Homo sapiens: one gene and its partners. The protein of the gene in region 1 purifies or fractionates together with the protein of each later gene. This does not show direct contact. Each region holds a gene or a part of one and is shown on either strand. Other genes may lie near its edges.

Region 1 (4,730 bases):
GCCTCTCCAGTTCTAACTTTGGGATAATGACCCTTGAGCAAAAATAATGAATGCCTTCCTCCAGCTCCCAGAGCCACCTATTGACAATGCCCTAATCACACCCAAAACAGACACAGAAGCTCCCTGAGGCCAGAGGCAAAGCTTGACTCCTGCTCAACAAAGTCTGTTTGGTGAATGGCCAGTTGGCTGCATCCATTTAGAAAGCTGGCCACCTTCTCTGCAAGCACAGCCTCTCCTGAACACCAGAGAGCTGGAGAGGAAAATGAATACTGGGCTTGCTGCCTAGAAATAATTCCTATAATCCAAGATCAACATCTCTGATAACATTAGCCTGCCCACCTCCAGGCCACGGCCAGGCCTGCCATCTGACACTCAGCAACACAAGTCCCAGCCCAGGGGCAGTCTGCTCAAGGAAAGTCTGCTGGTACAGTAGCACTGGCCTAGGAAAGGGGCAGAAAGAAGAAGCACACAGGATCTCAGCTACCAAATCCCCACTTCTCACACTGGATTCTAGTTCTCCCAGGCAATCTCTGCAAAGGCTAAGAAAATGGCCAAGCATGCAAACTCATTAGAAGATGGTGATTCCCAGCTTACAGGGAACACATGTTGCTGATCAAACAGGAACTAAGTCTTTGAGCAGCTACACAATTATACCAACATTTACTAACTCCCTTGTCCCATCTTCTTCAGGGAGCTTTCTTGATAATCAGTTATACAGAACTCTCCAATTCTGCAGTGTTCACCAAAATTATTACACAAATCACAGATTTCTGGCCCTGGGCCATATCCAGATTAGTATTTTACATATGGATGCCCCCTCCCCTTCCTTTACTATGGAGAAGTGCCAGACTTCTCAGAATCAAAAAACTTGCAGACATGTGATATTTATCTCAGTGCTGAATACTACAGACAAACATGGGCCTCTTCAATGTTTTTTTCAAAACTCTTACAATTCTTTGATTATATCAGATGCTAAGCTATTTTTAAAGTTAACACTACAGTTTCTTAAATCAATGGAAAATTTTCACTGCTGTATTTGCAGCAAGCAGCATAGTGCTTAGAATATGATAGATGCTCAAAAATATTTGCTGAGTAAATGGACACTACAAACGTCCGTTTCACCATGAAATGAAAGCACACACACCACACCCACACACACACACACACACACACACACACACACACACAGAGGATATGAGGGCTTAAAGCATGCATTTAGCCAACAAGCATCTAACAGGTGCTGGGATCCTCTAAGTATGAAAGGCACAGTAGTGAAATACACTGACAAAATATCCTAGGAGGTGATGCTCTGGTAGGACACAACAGCAGACACTCAAAGACTAGACCAGGAGCAAAACCATCCTGAATCTGTAGCCGACTGAGGGCCTCCTGTGCTGGCTGGTGAGCTACTGCCTGCTGGACAATCACGAAAGCCACAGTCTCCCCAGGGATCCTCTCAGCTTCTTGCCCCTCACATGGCCTCACATATCTGAATGCCAAGATGTTTACTGAACTGAGCACTCCAGGCAAAGTACTTCACAGAACACTAGTTACAAGCCACTAACTAGTCACCACTACCCAGTTTACCATTTCCACATTGCATTCACTCTGTGAAAGCAAACAAAACCCAGCTGAGGGCTGGCCTGACAGGATATGGGTGAACACCCGATCACATGTCATTAAGATCCCACTACATAAATACCAGAACCGAAAATTGCTAATGAAAATGCCTCTCCCTCTCCCAAACTGACAGTCACTTCTACAATGGTGGGGGTCTTTTTCTTTCTTTAGAGGAAGGGGGTGTTACTGTTTGTATTTTGTTCTGACTGGAGGTGGGAAGTCTGCACCCCAGTGGCTCAAAGGTAAAAGCAACTGATCGAGGAGACTGGTCCACCCCCCTCAGACGTGAGGTGGGAGCTGGTACATCTGAATACTCCTTCCATTTCTCAAGAAATCGTCATCTCCACAGAGGAAGGAAACTGGTAATGTGCATATGAGCAAAGCAAGTGCAGCAGGAGAGAAGTCAATGCCGGGGGCCATTAGGAATGCTTCAGGAAAGGAAGTCCACCAGGGCGGGCCGGCCCTAGCCACACACACACCTGCCAAAGCGAGCTTCACCCATCACAACACCCACCACTCAGAAACAAAATTAAGAAGCAACTGCTCAAGATAGGTTCAGCTTTGCATTTATCTACTTTTAAATCTGTTTGCCAGTACATAACATATAAATACATCAACCCTTTGTACCCAACACGATAATCCTCTAACTTAGTTACATAAAAATACTAGGCATGACCAAACCATCAGTGCCACAGTCCAAACGTGTGTCCCCGCAAAATTCACGTGTTGAGACCCAGTCCCCAAGATGATAGTACTAAGAGGGAAGCCTTGTGGGAAGTGATTTAAGTCATGAGGGCAGAGCCCTCTGGAATGAGATCAGGGTCCTTATGAAAGAGGCCAGAGTGGTAAAAGGAATTTGAGGAGAAAAATACATTTAGATAGATAGATACATACATACATATATACAAACATACATAGATGGAGGCCCCAGAAGGAACTTGTCTGTCCCCTTCTGCTATGAGGACACCACTAGAAGGCACCACCTCTAAAGCAGAGTGAGCCCTCACCAGACACCAAATCTGCTGGTGCCTTCATCTTGGGCTTCCCAGCCTCCAGAACTATGAGAAATAAATTTCTGTTGTTTATAAGCTACCCTGTCTACGGTATTTTTTCACAGCAGCACAAATGGCCTAAAACAATCTATCTGGGAGCAGAAGAAAGAAAACAAAAACCTATTTGTCAAACCCTGCTTAAAACTCTTTACTGACTCTAGCTCTTAAGATGAAGACCAAAATCCTGCCCTGGCCCAAGGCCTGCCTCTTCCAAAGGCTATGTCCCCTTCACTCCTAGTTGCCACCAGGCACTCCTTGAGTCCCACATGCAACCAGCACCCCCACCTAAGGGCCTCTGCTTATGCCATTTCCTCTCCCTACAACACTTGACTTCCTCCTCTCCACCCCCACCCCCGCTCCAGTCAACACCAACTCATCCTTTGAGTCTCAGCTCAAATGTCGCTTCTTCAGGAAAGTCTTTCCTAGCCCTCCACCAACCATAAACCAGATCAAGATCCTGAACTATACATGCATTGCATATCTTTCCTTTCAAACTTCCTAGCACTGGTTGGTGTTTGTTATATTTTATTAACGTCTGTCCCCCCCACCTACTGAAAGCTCCAGGAGGACAGGGACTGTTTGTCTTGTCCAGTCATATCCCCAGTGCCTAAGCACACACAGTGAGTGAATGAGTGGGAAGCTCCTGAGGCCTTCCTAGAACACAAGTCAGTGAACTACAGCCTGCGGTCATTTCCAGTCTCTGCCTATTTCTGTACAATCTACAAGGCAAGGGCAGTTTTAACATTTTTATTTTGCTATTTTATTTTTTTGAAACAGGGTCTCCCTCTGTCACCCAGGCTGGAGTACAGTGGAGCAAACACAGCTCACTGCAATGTCCACCTCCTGGGATCAAGCAGTCCTCCTGCCTCAGCCTCCCAAGTAGCTGGGACTAAAGACATGTGCCATCATGCCTGGCTAGTTTGTTTTTTGTTTTGAGACAGAGTTTCGCTCTTGTCGCCCAGGCTGGAGTGCAATGGCGCCACCTCAGCTTGCTGCAACCTCTGTTTCCTGGGTTCAAGCAATTCTCCTGCCTCAGCCTCCCAAGCAGCTGGGATTACAGGCATCCGCCACCACACCCAGCTAATTTTGTATTTTTAGTAGAGACAGGGTCTCACCATGCTGGTCAGGCTGGTCTCAAACTCCTGACCTCAAGTGATCCACCCACCTCGGCTTCCCAAAGTGCTGGGATTACAGGCGTGAGCCACCACATCCAGCCACACCTGGCTAGTTTTTTTTAATTTTTGTAGGGATAGGGTCTCACTTTGTTGCCTAGGCTGGTCTCGAACTATTGGTATCAAGTGATCCTCCCATTTCGGCCTCCCAAAGTGCTGGGATTACAGGAGTGAGCCACTGTGCCCAGCTAACATTTTTAAATGGTTGAAAAAAATCAAAAGAATATTTTGCGAAATGTGAAAATTATATGAAATCCAAATTTCAGAGTCCATAACTAAAAGTTAAAACACAGCTATACTCATTCTGTGGTTGTTTCTGTACTACAACAGCATAGTGACAGATATGGCAGAGTGCGCAAAACCTAAAATAGTATGTGGCCCTTTACATAAAAAGTTTGCCTCTGCTATAACAGTGTCCTTGGAGTCCTGACCATGGGCATGAAATATATGAGACCCGAAAATATGGAACTGACTGTAAGCTCTCTCCTCTGGGGAAGGGTGAGTCATAACCCCCTTTTGGATTCCTGATGTCTGTTAAATTCAGTGGGCATTCACTGAATGGCTGCCACCTCCATGACATGAGGCAAGAATGGCATGTAATACACCTGTATATTTGGGAGTTCTGGCTGATCACTTCTAAAGGGTCAGGGCTCACACCAAAACCAGTGCTTACTGGGTGACCATTTTCTATTCATTCATGCAACAAATGTCTACCTGGGCACCTTACCTTAGTCGGTTCAGGCTGTTATAACAAAAACACCACAGACTAAGTGGCTTAAACAACAGAAATTTACTCAGTTCTGAAGGCTGGAATGTCCAAAATCAAGGTGCTGGTCAATTTGGTTCCTGGCGGGGGCCCTCTTCCTGGTTTGCAAAGGAATGCCTT
Region 2 (3,999 bases), on another chromosome or scaffold:
CTTTAGGACACTGAAGGACTTTAAGAAAATCAGATTTGCATTTCAGAAAGATCATCCCCAGGGAGTAAAGGAGGAAGTCTAGATGTTTCTGGAAAGGAAGAAAACATTGAAGAATCAGACTACTGAAAAGATTATTACAGTAAGTTAGGTGGATAATGAGGGCCCCTTACCAAGGCACTCACAATGTAAACTCATTCATTCAAAAACTCGTATGTAGAATCTATTATTATTCAGAAAATAAAATCAATTATACTTGATGACCATTTGGAAGTTAGAAATGGAGAGTGAATCCAGGCTGAGGATGACTCCTTGGTTCTTGGCTTAAGGCAACAGCATGGTTATGATGAATGGAAATACAGTACGAACAAGAGAGAAGAATAGTTTGGAGGGAGGACCACATGCTAGTTTTGGGTATGTTTGTGGAAACAACCTAACAGACATCCTTGACTCCAGGTTCTCTTCCTTGCACACTGCTACTAAACTGAACTCAAGAAAAGCATTCTATTTAGGAATATATGCTGCCAACCTATTTCTTGGAACATTAATTCTAAACTGGCTTTCAAGATCCTCTGAGGCCTATTCGCTCCAGTTGTACAAGCTCATTTCTTACCATGACATTTCTAAATATTCACCTTCCTCTACCCTGGTCATCTTGCTGATCTTTTCAATGTTCCACCCACCATGCTCACCCCGGCACAAGCTACTTGGTTGGGAATCAAGCTGGTCAGAAAGACCTTGACTGCTAACCTTTTGAGTTTAAGCCTGAGGCTCTCACTTGAAACTCTGTATTAGGAATATTAACACACATCGCACAGCTCTCCCAATTAGCACTAACAGGCCTCTCTCAGGACCTCATTTTCTGCTGCTCTAAAACTAGCTTCCCCAAATGAATTGCATTTATGTCCTGGGTTGTCAGACTGGCCTGGGTTGTCCATAGAATTCTATTGTCACATATCTAAAGCTCACTTATTATTTAAAGAACTTCAGCCATCCCACCCACCCTACCCTCAAACCTATATTTACAGTACATATCACATATTTTAAATATTATACCCCAACATATTGTGTCCTGTGATCTCCCCACGTGGACAGACCTCTACATCCTTGGAGGGAATGGAGGTATTTGTTTCCTCATAGCATGGTCAGTTATAAGTCTAAAAACTGTTGTTAACCAAATTTTAAGGTTATTTCAGTCCTATGTTTTTAAACAATAAGTAAACTAACAGTTAATAGTGCTCCAAATCTTTATGGCTTTTCTGGTCAGTCTCTTGTTCCAAAATTCAAAGATTAGGATTACAATGTTTCCTTTGCTCTCATCCCTCACACAGTGCCAGGCCTTTATAAAACACTCTCCCATGGGGGAAAAAATGCAGCCAGGCTTCTGCTCTGGCTCAAGATGACTCCTTCTTAACATACTATTCGTAAAGTGTCCTCAATTCACCTGTTATCTCCTATGCCCTCCACTTTCTTGCAAATCTGTTCTCCAACCACACTGAATTTAACCAATGTTTACTGAGTGAATTTAATTAAGCAAGGCAAAACGTGTCTTGCTTTTCCATACTTTAAGTGCTCCCTGCTCTTCTCTTTGCCTGGAATGCCCTTCCTTTTTTCACCTGACAAATTCCTAATCATCTGTAGGACCCCAAAAAATGCCACCTCCTCTAGTGAAACTTCCGCAGTTTCCTTAGACAGAGGTGGTCATTCATTAGGGTCTTCCACATCCTGATGAATTATTTGCTGACACACTCTCCTTGCTACATCCTTAGCTTTTTAGAATCAGGACTGTTTCATTCTTACATTCCCAGCACAGTGTCTGACACTCAATGAGTCCCAATAAACCAATGTCATTCATCCAAAACACACCTTTTAAGGAATGTATAATACACCCTCTTAAGAACTGTAGTCCCCTGAGTCCTCCAGCAAGACGTGTAAAGGGAATTGCCTCCGGAACACTTCTGGAATCGCAGGAAGCCTGTATTCAAGTCAAAGCTCTTACAAGTGCTATTATTGGGAACCGCTGATCAGAACGCGCTTCTCAGGACCACGTTCAGCTCATATATAAAAGCCATCGACGTGCTGCTTTGGATGAAAATCGTTTTCTCTAGATTCTCTGGGGCTACGGCTAGTCACGCTAAATATCACTTATCCCTAATAGCGCTCATATCCCTGGAGAGATTTTTAAATCAATTGCCTAACAGACCTCACTACGTACAACTTTGAACAAGTCTGTGGGGACCACAAAAGCACAGATGACAGGGTTCTTAAGGTTAACAAGGCCTCGGTCCCACACTAAGCTTTTAAAACTCGGGAGGCAGCAGTTGCAAAAGCAAGCCTCAGGCTGCTCACCTTCTAGGATGGACACGACGATGAGCAATTGGTCGGATTTGGAGACCATGGTTGCGGTGAGCGGTCCGGGGGCGAAGGCGGCTGGGGGGAAGTGAGGTCCAGTTGAGTCGCGGGTAATCCGGGACCCCCGGCGGGACCCCCACTGCCCGCCCCCGGTCCCTGATGCCCGGACCCCGCTCCGCAGCCAGGTCCCACCGCCGTCTGCTGCAGCGCGCCCGGCTCCTCTGCCTCGGGCCGCCAGCCCAGATCCTAACTGTGCCCCGACTCAAGGAAAAAGCCACGCTGCAGCCCTGCCAGTCTGCAAGCAGAGACAAGCCCGCCACCCGAGGACCTTTTGCCGCCTGCGTAGCCGCTTTTCAAACGCCCGGGCGGCCGCAGCGGCCGCCGCCGCGCCCAGCTTCCGCCTAGCAACCAGGCCCGCAGGCCCAGTGCCCAGGGGAGGTTGGAGGACAACGGGTGATAGAGACAGAGCAGTCAAGGCTAGAACGCCCGTCAGCGAGCTTCGCCTCCCGCCCTTTTACGCTCTGTTCCAGAGCCCTAAGGAGGACGCCTTCATTACCTCACAGCGCCCTCTGCTAGCCGGACGAGGAGAGGCGGGCGACTTGGTGTGGGACCAGCTGCGCAAGCGCACTACTGCTGTAAACGCTTCCTGAAGCTGCGTAGCCTTTAAGGAGCGTGAGTGTAGCGTATTACCTGCTTTATGCTTCAGCCACAACCTGAGAGTTATATTAGTGGGGATTAAAAAAACAAAAAAACCTAGCTTAGTTGACGTACCCAGTGTCAACACTGCTTAAAAAATTAAATCACAAAAAAATAATGACTTAAATCTAAACTCTAAAGTCCCTAAATCGTGCTCACGCGGCACCTCAAATTTCCGACCTTTGAAAACAAGTAGCTTCAATACGGTAATTACTGTACTTGTTAAAGCTGACGTAAACTCCCCGAGAATTTCCTGTCCCTTAGAAATTACCCCTAAAACAAAAACACTGTCACGTGGGCAATGAAATATAAAGGTTCTTCCACCCCCGATGACAAAGTTATTAGCAAACTCAAAACCAAAAATAAACAAGGCATTGAGGTGCTGTCTGCCGACCCTTTCCCCTTAACGTCTCCCAAATTCAGATTTAAGAAACGGTTCAAGACTTGTAAAGGGAACGGCCTCCTAAACACTACTCAAATTGCAAGAAGCATGTATTCAAGTCAAAGGCAAAGTTCTTTTGGAGGTTATCTAGCTTGAAACTTAAATAACCGAATTGGTTGGAGCGATCGTGGACACTATTAAGTTTGGGAAAAATTCTGCTTCGGAAAACAAAAGTAAATCATAATAAAATAAAGCTGCAGAGATAGCACTAGGTAGTGGACATAAGTGCGGCTTCTCCTATTACTTTCTGGTTTTGTAAATTGAGAAGTTGTTTTGAGAGCAAATATAATATCTCGCTGTTTTCTTTTTCTTCTATTGCTTCCTTGTTTTGGAAATTTAGAAGTTATTTTGAGAGCAAATAATATAATATCACTATTGTTTTCTTCTTCCTCTTCTTTATTCTTCCTTCTTTGCTTTCTGCCCAAAAGAAAAGGAGGAATATGTAGAGATTGGACTAATTACTTCTAAGGCCCTTTCAGGTCCTATCACAGGCATTCTTAAAATGAAGCACT
Region 3 (3,500 bases), on another chromosome or scaffold:
TCTCAAAAAAAAAGAAAAAAAAAGAAAAGGAAAACCAAGCAGAATTAAAGGTGGACTTACATGGTTTTGGGGAGTTTACTGACCCAGAGCCAGAGAGCCAGGTTTAAGGGTGTACTTTGACCCTTTGACCTGAGCAGCTCTTGAAGACCATGAGTGACAGGGAAGACCAGAGCCTGAGTCCCATCACCTGTTGTGCCCTAAGTAAAACTCTTGACCTTTGTTTGCAGCCCAATTTTGCCCATGGCCTGGCTTCTCTCCAGATACCCCATGGAGCAACTGTAAAACGAATGTACATCTACAGTGGCAACAGCCTGCAGGATACCAAGTAAGTATAAGGAGCATGAGTTTCTTGCTAAGGCCTGGGCTGCCTGGGAGAAAGAACCAAGCCTCTGCTCATTCTGTGTCTGTCCCCAGGGCTCCCATGATGCCTCTGAGCTGTTTCCTGGGCAATGTCTATGCTGAGAGTGTAGATGTTCTTCGAGATGGAACTGGACCTGCAGGTTTACGACTTCGCCTACTTGCTGCAGGTCAGTGACTGGCTTTGAGGTTGGTACATTCCGCATTATACCCATGTTGAGACAGTCTAAAATCCCACGTGCTTAGGGTGTGTCTCAGTCCATTCAGGCTGCTATAATAAAATACCATAAACTGAGTGGCTGCTAAACAACAAAAATTTATTTCTTGCAGTTCTGGAGGCTGGGAAGTCCAAGATCAAGGCACTGGCAGATTCAGTATCTGGATGCGCCTGCAGTCTAGTTCATAGAAGAAACTTCTCCCCGTATCCTCATATGGTGCAAGGGGCTAGTTAACTCCCTGGAGTCTGTTTTTTAACGGCACTGATCTCAATCCTGAGGTCTCTGCTTCCATAATGTAATCACCTCCCAAAGCCCTGACCTTCTAATACCATCACCTTGGTGGTTAGGATTTCAACATATGAATTTTAGGGGAACAAAAGCATTCAGTCCATTGCCACATAGTTGGTAGAAGACAAATGATGCAGATGTTTATGGTTAAAGCTTTTGTTTAGTTTTGTCAAGGGACTGGACATAGTCTTATAATTAGCAAATCTTAATAAGCAACAGCACTGCTTCTCTCAGCATGCACATAGGCCTGCTGTGTGCTTATATAGCTTTGTGACAGTTCCCAAGTGTTTCCTGGAGATGCATCCTGTGGGTTGCAGTGCTACTGCTCTCCCCTTTTTTGTTTTTTTCTTTTTCTTTTTTTTGAGACAGAGTCTTACTCTGTTGCTGAGGCTGGAGTGCAGTGGCACGATCTCAGCTTACTGCACCCTCTGCCTCCCAGGTTCAAGTGATTCTCCTGCCTCAGCCTCCCAAGTAGCTGGGATTACAGGCACGCATTAGCACACCCGGCTAATTTTTGTATTTTTAGTAGAGACAGGGTTTCACCATGTTGTTCAGGCTGGTCTGGAACTCCTGACCTCATGATCCGCCCACCTCGGCCTCCCAAAGTGCTGGGATTACAGGCGTGAGCCACCGCACCTGGCCAGCTCTCCCCTTTTTTCTACCTTTTTTTGTTTTGTTTTGTTTTGTTTTGTAAGAGATGGCCTCATTCTGTCATCCAGGCTGTAGTGCAGTGGTGCAATCATAGCTCACTGCAGCCTCAAAACTCCTGGGCTCAAGTGATCTCACCTAAGCCTCCCAAGTAGCTAGGACCACAGGCATGTGCTACCATGCCCAGTTAATTTTTGTCTATGTGGAGATGGGTCTTGCTGTGTTACCCAGAATGATCTTGAACTCCTGGGCTCAATCGATCCTCCCTCCTTGGCTTTCCAAAGTGCTGGTATTACAGGTGCAAGCCGCTACACCCAGCTTTTCTCCCTATATTATCCAGGCCGGTGTGCATTGGAATACTGTGGCCTTGAACTCCTGGGCTCAAGCAATCCTGCCTTAACCTCCTGACTAGGCTACAGGCACGCACCACCATGCCTGGCTCTCCTTTTTCTACCCTTTATGCCAAGTTCTCAACGTAGGCAAGCAGACGGGACTTGTTGAATTGTGGTTTGGCCACACCTTGGCCAGAGTTTTGCCAACCATGAACAACAACAACAAAAAGAAATAGTTGGCCGGGTGCAGTGGCTCATGCCTGTAATCCCAGCACTTTGGGAGGCCAAAGCGGGTGGATTACCTGAGGTCAGGAGTTCAAGACCAGCCTGACCAATATGATGAAACCCCATCTCTGCTAAAAATACAAAAATTAGCTGGGCGTGGTAAAGCACGCCTGTACTCCCAGCTACTCAGGAGGCTGAGACAGGAGAATCGCTTGAACTCAGGAGGCGGAGGTTGCAGTGAGCTGAGATAGCGCCATTGCACTGGAGCCTGGGCAACAAGAGCGAAACTCCTTCTCACAGAAAAAAAAAAAAAAGAGTGCCACCTTCAGTAGCTGGTCCCTCCAGGATCCATGCCTCATTTTGTGACATTCCCATGCCTGGCCAACTTCAGCTGCTTTGGGTTGTGGATCGTGCTTAACGGGACTGGGAGCTTCAGCGTGGAGTTTGTTCCCATAAAGAGAGCTGAGAACCTTCGTGGAGCTCATTGCCTAACCAGCATTTATTCGTAAATTGGGTTCCTGCATCAGTCTCTGAGGCATTGATTCCTTTTTTTTTTTTTTTTTTTTTTTTTTTGCTTCTTTTTTCTTTCTTTGAGACATGGTCTCCCTCTGTCACCCAGGCTGGAATGCAGTGGCATCATCATAGCTAAGTGCAGCCTTGAACTCCTGGGCACAAGGAATCCTTCTGCCTCAGCCTCCGAAGAAACTGGGACTACAGGTGCACACCACCACACCCAGCTAATTCTATTTTTTTGTAGACACGTGGTCTCCCTATGTTGCCCAGGCTGGTCTCAAACTCCTAGCCTTAAGCGGTCGTCCCACCTCAGCCTCCCAAATGGTTCTTAATTATTAAGAATCTGGTATATAGGCTGGACACAGTGGCTCACGCCTATAATCCCAGCACTTTGGGAGGCCGAGGTGGGCGGATCACGAGGTCAGGAGATTGAGACCATCCTGACTAACGGTGAAACCCCATCTCTACTAAAAAATAGAAAAAATTAGCCAGGCATGGTGGCAGGCGCCTGTAGTTCCAGCTACTCGGGAGGCTGAGGCAGGAGAATGGCGTGAACCCAGGAGGTGGAGCTTGCAGTGAGCCGAGATAGCGCCACCGCGCTCCAGCCTGAGCGACAGAGCAAGACTCCTTCTCAAAAAAAAAAAAAAAGAATCTGGTATATGAACTCTGAGCCCACTTCTGTGAACAGTTAGACAGTTCACAACCTTCACGTTACGAATTTCTTAAAATGTGATTTTCTAGCCAAGACAGAACAACCACTTAAAGGAGTGTCATGCTTAAGCTATGGTTTTGGGGTTTTTTGTTGTTGTTGTTTTTTGACAGAGTCTTGCTGTGTTGTCCAGGCTAGAGTGCAGTGGTGTGATCTCAGCTCACTGCAACCTCTGCCTCCTGGGTTAAAGCGATTCTCATGCCTCAGCCT
Region 4 (4,179 bases), on another chromosome or scaffold:
AGGTCGGAGGGGGCCATGGGGTAACAGCAGAGCCTCAGCTGGGGGTGGCTGAAGGGCTGCCCCATCCTCCCAAGACGGGGAGCTCACACGGCTGTCACCCTGGCTGGGAGGGCCAGGGATAGTAGGTGCTGGCTCTGCAGGGCTGTCAGACAGGTAGACCTCATCAGGTGGGGCACCCGGAGGGGTGGGCCTTGTGGGGCCTCGGCGGCGAGGTCGACGGGGCTTCTCCTGGGTGGCAGGGCCATCAGCATCACTGTCAGTCTCTCCGTAGTAAGCCTCACTATCAGGAGGTGAACGAAGGCTCCCAGGCTGAAGAGGCTGAGGAACTGGAGCACCAGGGGGCTCAGGACTTAGTGGAGATAAGGGTGACAGCACCTGAAGCTCATGGGGAGATGGAGATTGCACAGGACCCTCGTCTGCTAACCTGGATAGGAAAGATGACAGAGCTTGAGAGATGGGCTGGGTACTGACAGCTAGAGAGATCTGGAAGGGATGGAGGGAAGAGGTAAGGGGGAGGGAAGAGGTAAGGGAGAGAGAAGGCTGTCATACAGTTGGAATGGGTGGGCCGGGAAGAGTGGAGATATGAAGACAAACTGGGAGGCAAATGTGCTTGAAGGGCTGTGAGTGGAAATAGGCTTAGAGGAAGATGTAATGAGGAGGAAACAGGCCAGGGGTTGAAGTAGGCTCATCAGTCAAATACCCACTGACATCCCCATCCCTTAATTGCAGATACATTCAAGCCCTCTGGGAGGCAGACACAAACCATCTGCACTCCAGCAGAAACGCACGAGCAGAAATAGGTACCTGTTAGTTGCTAAAGCCAGGCCAGTGAGACATAGAGCTGAGACAGGCAATGGGAGCCCTGGATTAGGGGAAGAGAAGAGGAGAGAGGTCCATACCGCTGCACAGTGAGGACAAGCTGATTTCCTGAGGCATCGATGAGGCTCATGGCACTGGCATGGGAGAGGTTGGTGCAAGAGACCCCATTGATTGCCAAGAGCTGGTCCCTCTCTCGGAGTCCTGCTCTGCCAGCCTGGCTCCGTCTTCGAATCTGAGATGTTGAAGGAGACACTGTAGGTAAGAGGGGGCTCCAAAGGGAATAGAATGAAAGGAAAAGATGGGAAGGACCCACAGGAGGGGATTTTACTTTGCAGGGTAAGAAGGGTGGGGAGATGCATGGAAGTGGCTGCAGTTGAAGTGGCCTGTCTAGAGGGAAGAAAGTATACAGACTGGAGAAAGAAATACATCATATGGTGGGAAATAGGGTAACCATTGAATGAAAGAGGCTTGGGAAGAACTGCATGGGGTAGGTAACTAGAAATGGTGGTTATTGGCTGGGTGCAGTGGCTCACGCCTGTAAGCCCAGTGCTTTGGGAGGCCTAGGTGGGTGGATCACTTGAGATCAGGAGTTTGAGACCAGCCTGGCCAATGGGTGAAACGCTGTCTCTACTAAAAGTACAAAAATCAGCTGGCCGTGGTGGTGTGCGCCTGTAATCCCAGATACTTGGGAGGCTGAGGCAGGAGAATTGCTTGAACCCAGGAAGCAGAGGTTGCAGTGAGCCATCATGTCACTGCACTCCAGCCTGGGCAACAGAGTAAGACTCTGTCGCAAAAAAAAAGAAAAGAAAAAAAACGGAAAGAAATGGTGATTATCTCCACAAGCTTTTTCTCCAAGGGCAATATCTATATTGGCTGGTAATTCTCTACTAGGCCTTGTAACCCCAGGCGCCATTACACAGTCAAGATTTTAGAACAGTACTCCAGGTTGGAGGGAGTCCAGCGGTATTCTGGGAGATTGTGATTATTTGGGTATATGTGTGCCATGTATACACACAAATGTATATATGCCAAAGTAATAATAGTAGTAGTGGCTACCATTTATTGAGTTCTTACTAAGTGTTGGGCACTGTGCTACATGTATTATTGCATTTAATCCTTAGAATGGTTCCATGAAGTAGGTACAGGTACTATTATTACCCACATTTTACAGTTCGGAAAACTAAGCCTGTAGGGTGAAACCAAAAGGATAATGACTTCATCTGTGAGGCCAGATCTTGCCATAACCCTCCTAGCACCTAAAAAAGTCTTGCCTAGTGAGAGAAAGGATCTGACCTAGGGAAAGAGCACTGAAGGCATGGGCAGGGCAGGGTGAGGCAGGGTAGGGCTGGGCTGGGCTAGGCTGTTCGAGGCAGTTTCAGTTCATCACATATCAGTTTAGTCAGAGAGAAATTAGAACCTTCCCCGTATTTCTGGAGTTTGGAGTAGAGGCACATACCCAAGAGAACAAACACTGGATGACCAGAGCTGGGCCTCTGATACCACAGTGCTGCAGGGAACTGAAGCAGAGCCTTTCCTTTTCCTCTGCTCCCTGGAAACCGCGAATTCTCTTTTCTAATAGACCCCCACAGGAAGCCTGTGGTCAGACGCTACTCCCACTATGAGACTTGAGCATACTTCCCTGCCCACCACCCACCCCATCTTCACAGCCTCCCACCCCCCCAACCCCCGCCATATGCCACCACACATCTCTTCCCAGGATCCCTTGGGTTCCCTTTCCCTGAAGCCTCATTTCAGGGGCTCTCCCTTACCTTAGACACCTGTAACGGTTTCCTCTGCTCGGCCCCCCCATGAAGTCGGAAGCCCCAGGGGGCTCCCCCTGATAGTGTGACCAGCACCTCCTCCTCAGCACCCATCGCTCAGCTTGGCCTATGGCCCCCGGAGTTTGAACAGTGTCCCCAGGAGAGAAGTTGAGGTGCTCGAACCCCGTCTGGGCTTCCTGTCCGGCTGTCCTGCTCCTGCTGCCCCAGGCCTCCCCCCCACACCACACACCACAGGCAGGCAACTTGGCCCTGGGATCATTACAGTCCAGCACACATGTCCCGTCAATCGCAGATGTGCTCAAAATAGATGCCGCTTGTACTCCCCTCCCTCCCCCTTCTGTGTTACTCCTAGAGCTAATTATAGTACAAACTTCTGCCCTCCATGTTCCCAATTCTCCTGCATGGGCCTTTTATTCAGGACTCAGAATACAAACTCTCTGGGCTCTATAACCAATGTACACCCTTTCAGGAACTGTGCCTTCTCTAATAGGACCATGGGCTAATCTCAACTGCTTTCCTCCAAAGACCCTTTCAAAGTGGCAGCAGCAGGGGCTTCAATTCCATAGCTGGCAAAGAATGGCTGGGCTTGCTCCAAGATCCCAGGAAAGAATGCACTCTCGCTATATAAATTTATCTGTTAATTAATAAATGGTGGGCCAGGCATGGTGGCTCACGCCTGTAATCCTAGCACTTTGGGAGGCCAAGGTGGGTGGATTGCTTGAGTCCAGGAATTTGAGACCAGCCTGGGCAACATCGTGAGATGGCCCCCCATCTCTATTTTCTTATTATTAAAAAAAGTTAAAAAAAAAAACCAAAAAACTATAGGCTGGGCACGGTGGCTCACACCTGTAAACCCAGCACTTTGGGACCAAGGTGGGCGGATCACGAGGTCAGGAGATTGAGACCATCCTGGCTAACACGAGGAAACCCCGTCTCTACTACAAATACAAAAAATTAGCTGGGCTTGGTGGCAGACGCCTGTAGTCCCAGCTACTCTGGAGGCTGAGGCAGGAGAATGGCGTGAACCCGCGAGGCAGAGCTTGTGGTGAGCCGAGGTCGTGCCACTGCACTCCAGCCTGGGTGACAGAGCGAGACTCCGTCTCAAAAAAAAAAAAAAAACAAACAAACAAACAAAAAACTATAAAAAAACAAATTACCTATTGCAATACATACGTGGTCATGGAAAGGTGTGTAGGTGTGCATAAACATACCAACCCATGTTAATACAATCTCTACTTGTCTCTAGGTTTCCATTACGAGAATGTCTCTGTTACAAGGCATAACATTATGGTGCTATAACTGTGATTATCAAAGGCTACAGAGTTTCATAAAATAGCTGCCCACCTAGTGTATGCTAAATACCGTTTGCCTTGGCATATGCCTCTATGTCCTAGAAACACTTGGGCTGGGTGCAGTGGCTCATGCCTATAATCCCAGCACTTTGAGAGGCTGAGGCAGGTGGATTGCTTGAGCCCAGGAGTTCAAGACCAGCCTGGATAACATGGTGAGACCCTGTTTCTACAAAAAAATACAAAAAAATTTAGCCAGGCCTGCCTGGTCACATGCTCCTATAGTCCCA

What was found.
Region 2: the proteins of TBC1D2B (region 1) and CEP120 purify together in Homo sapiens (affinity purification with mass spectrometry; one large-scale study listed by BioGRID and IntAct). This does not show direct contact.
Region 3: the proteins of TBC1D2B (region 1) and PHAF1 purify together in Homo sapiens (co-immunoprecipitation; one large-scale study listed by IntAct). This does not show direct contact.
Region 4: the proteins of TBC1D2B (region 1) and SYNPO2L purify together in Homo sapiens (affinity purification with mass spectrometry; one large-scale study listed by BioGRID and IntAct). This does not show direct contact.

What each region holds. Positions count from the first base shown.
Region 1 is NC_000015.10:78,067,234-78,071,963, forward strand, and holds part of TBC1D2B (TBC1 domain family member 2B), read right to left. Parts: intron 1-4,730. UniProt on the Homo sapiens protein: GTPase-activating protein that plays a role in the early steps of endocytosis.
Region 2 is NC_000005.10:123,420,604-123,424,602, forward strand, and holds the start of CEP120 (centrosomal protein of 120 kDa), read right to left. Parts: upstream 2,801-3,999; 5' UTR 2,396-2,800; coding exon 2,347-2,395; intron 2,264-2,346; exon of another isoform or gene 1,864-2,263; intron 1-1,863. UniProt on the Homo sapiens protein: Plays a role in the microtubule-dependent coupling of the nucleus and the centrosome.
Region 3 is NC_000016.10:67,133,941-67,137,440, forward strand, and holds part of PHAF1 (phagosome assembly factor 1), read left to right. Parts: intron 1-227; coding exon 228-325; intron 326-414; coding exon 415-527; intron 528-687; coding exon of another isoform or gene 688-809; exon of another isoform or gene 810-1,237; intron 1,238-3,500. UniProt on the Homo sapiens protein: Plays a regulatory role in autophagic activity. In complex with BCAS3, associates with the autophagosome formation site during both non-selective and selective autophagy.
Region 4 is NC_000010.11:73,653,230-73,657,408, forward strand, and holds the start of SYNPO2L (synaptopodin 2-like protein), read right to left. Parts: upstream 2,801-4,179; 5' UTR 2,694-2,800; coding exon 2,589-2,693; intron 1,078-2,588; exon of another isoform or gene 1,052-1,077; coding exon 900-1,051; exon of another isoform or gene 810-899; intron 425-809; coding exon 1-424. UniProt on the Homo sapiens protein: Actin-associated protein that may play a role in modulating actin-based shape.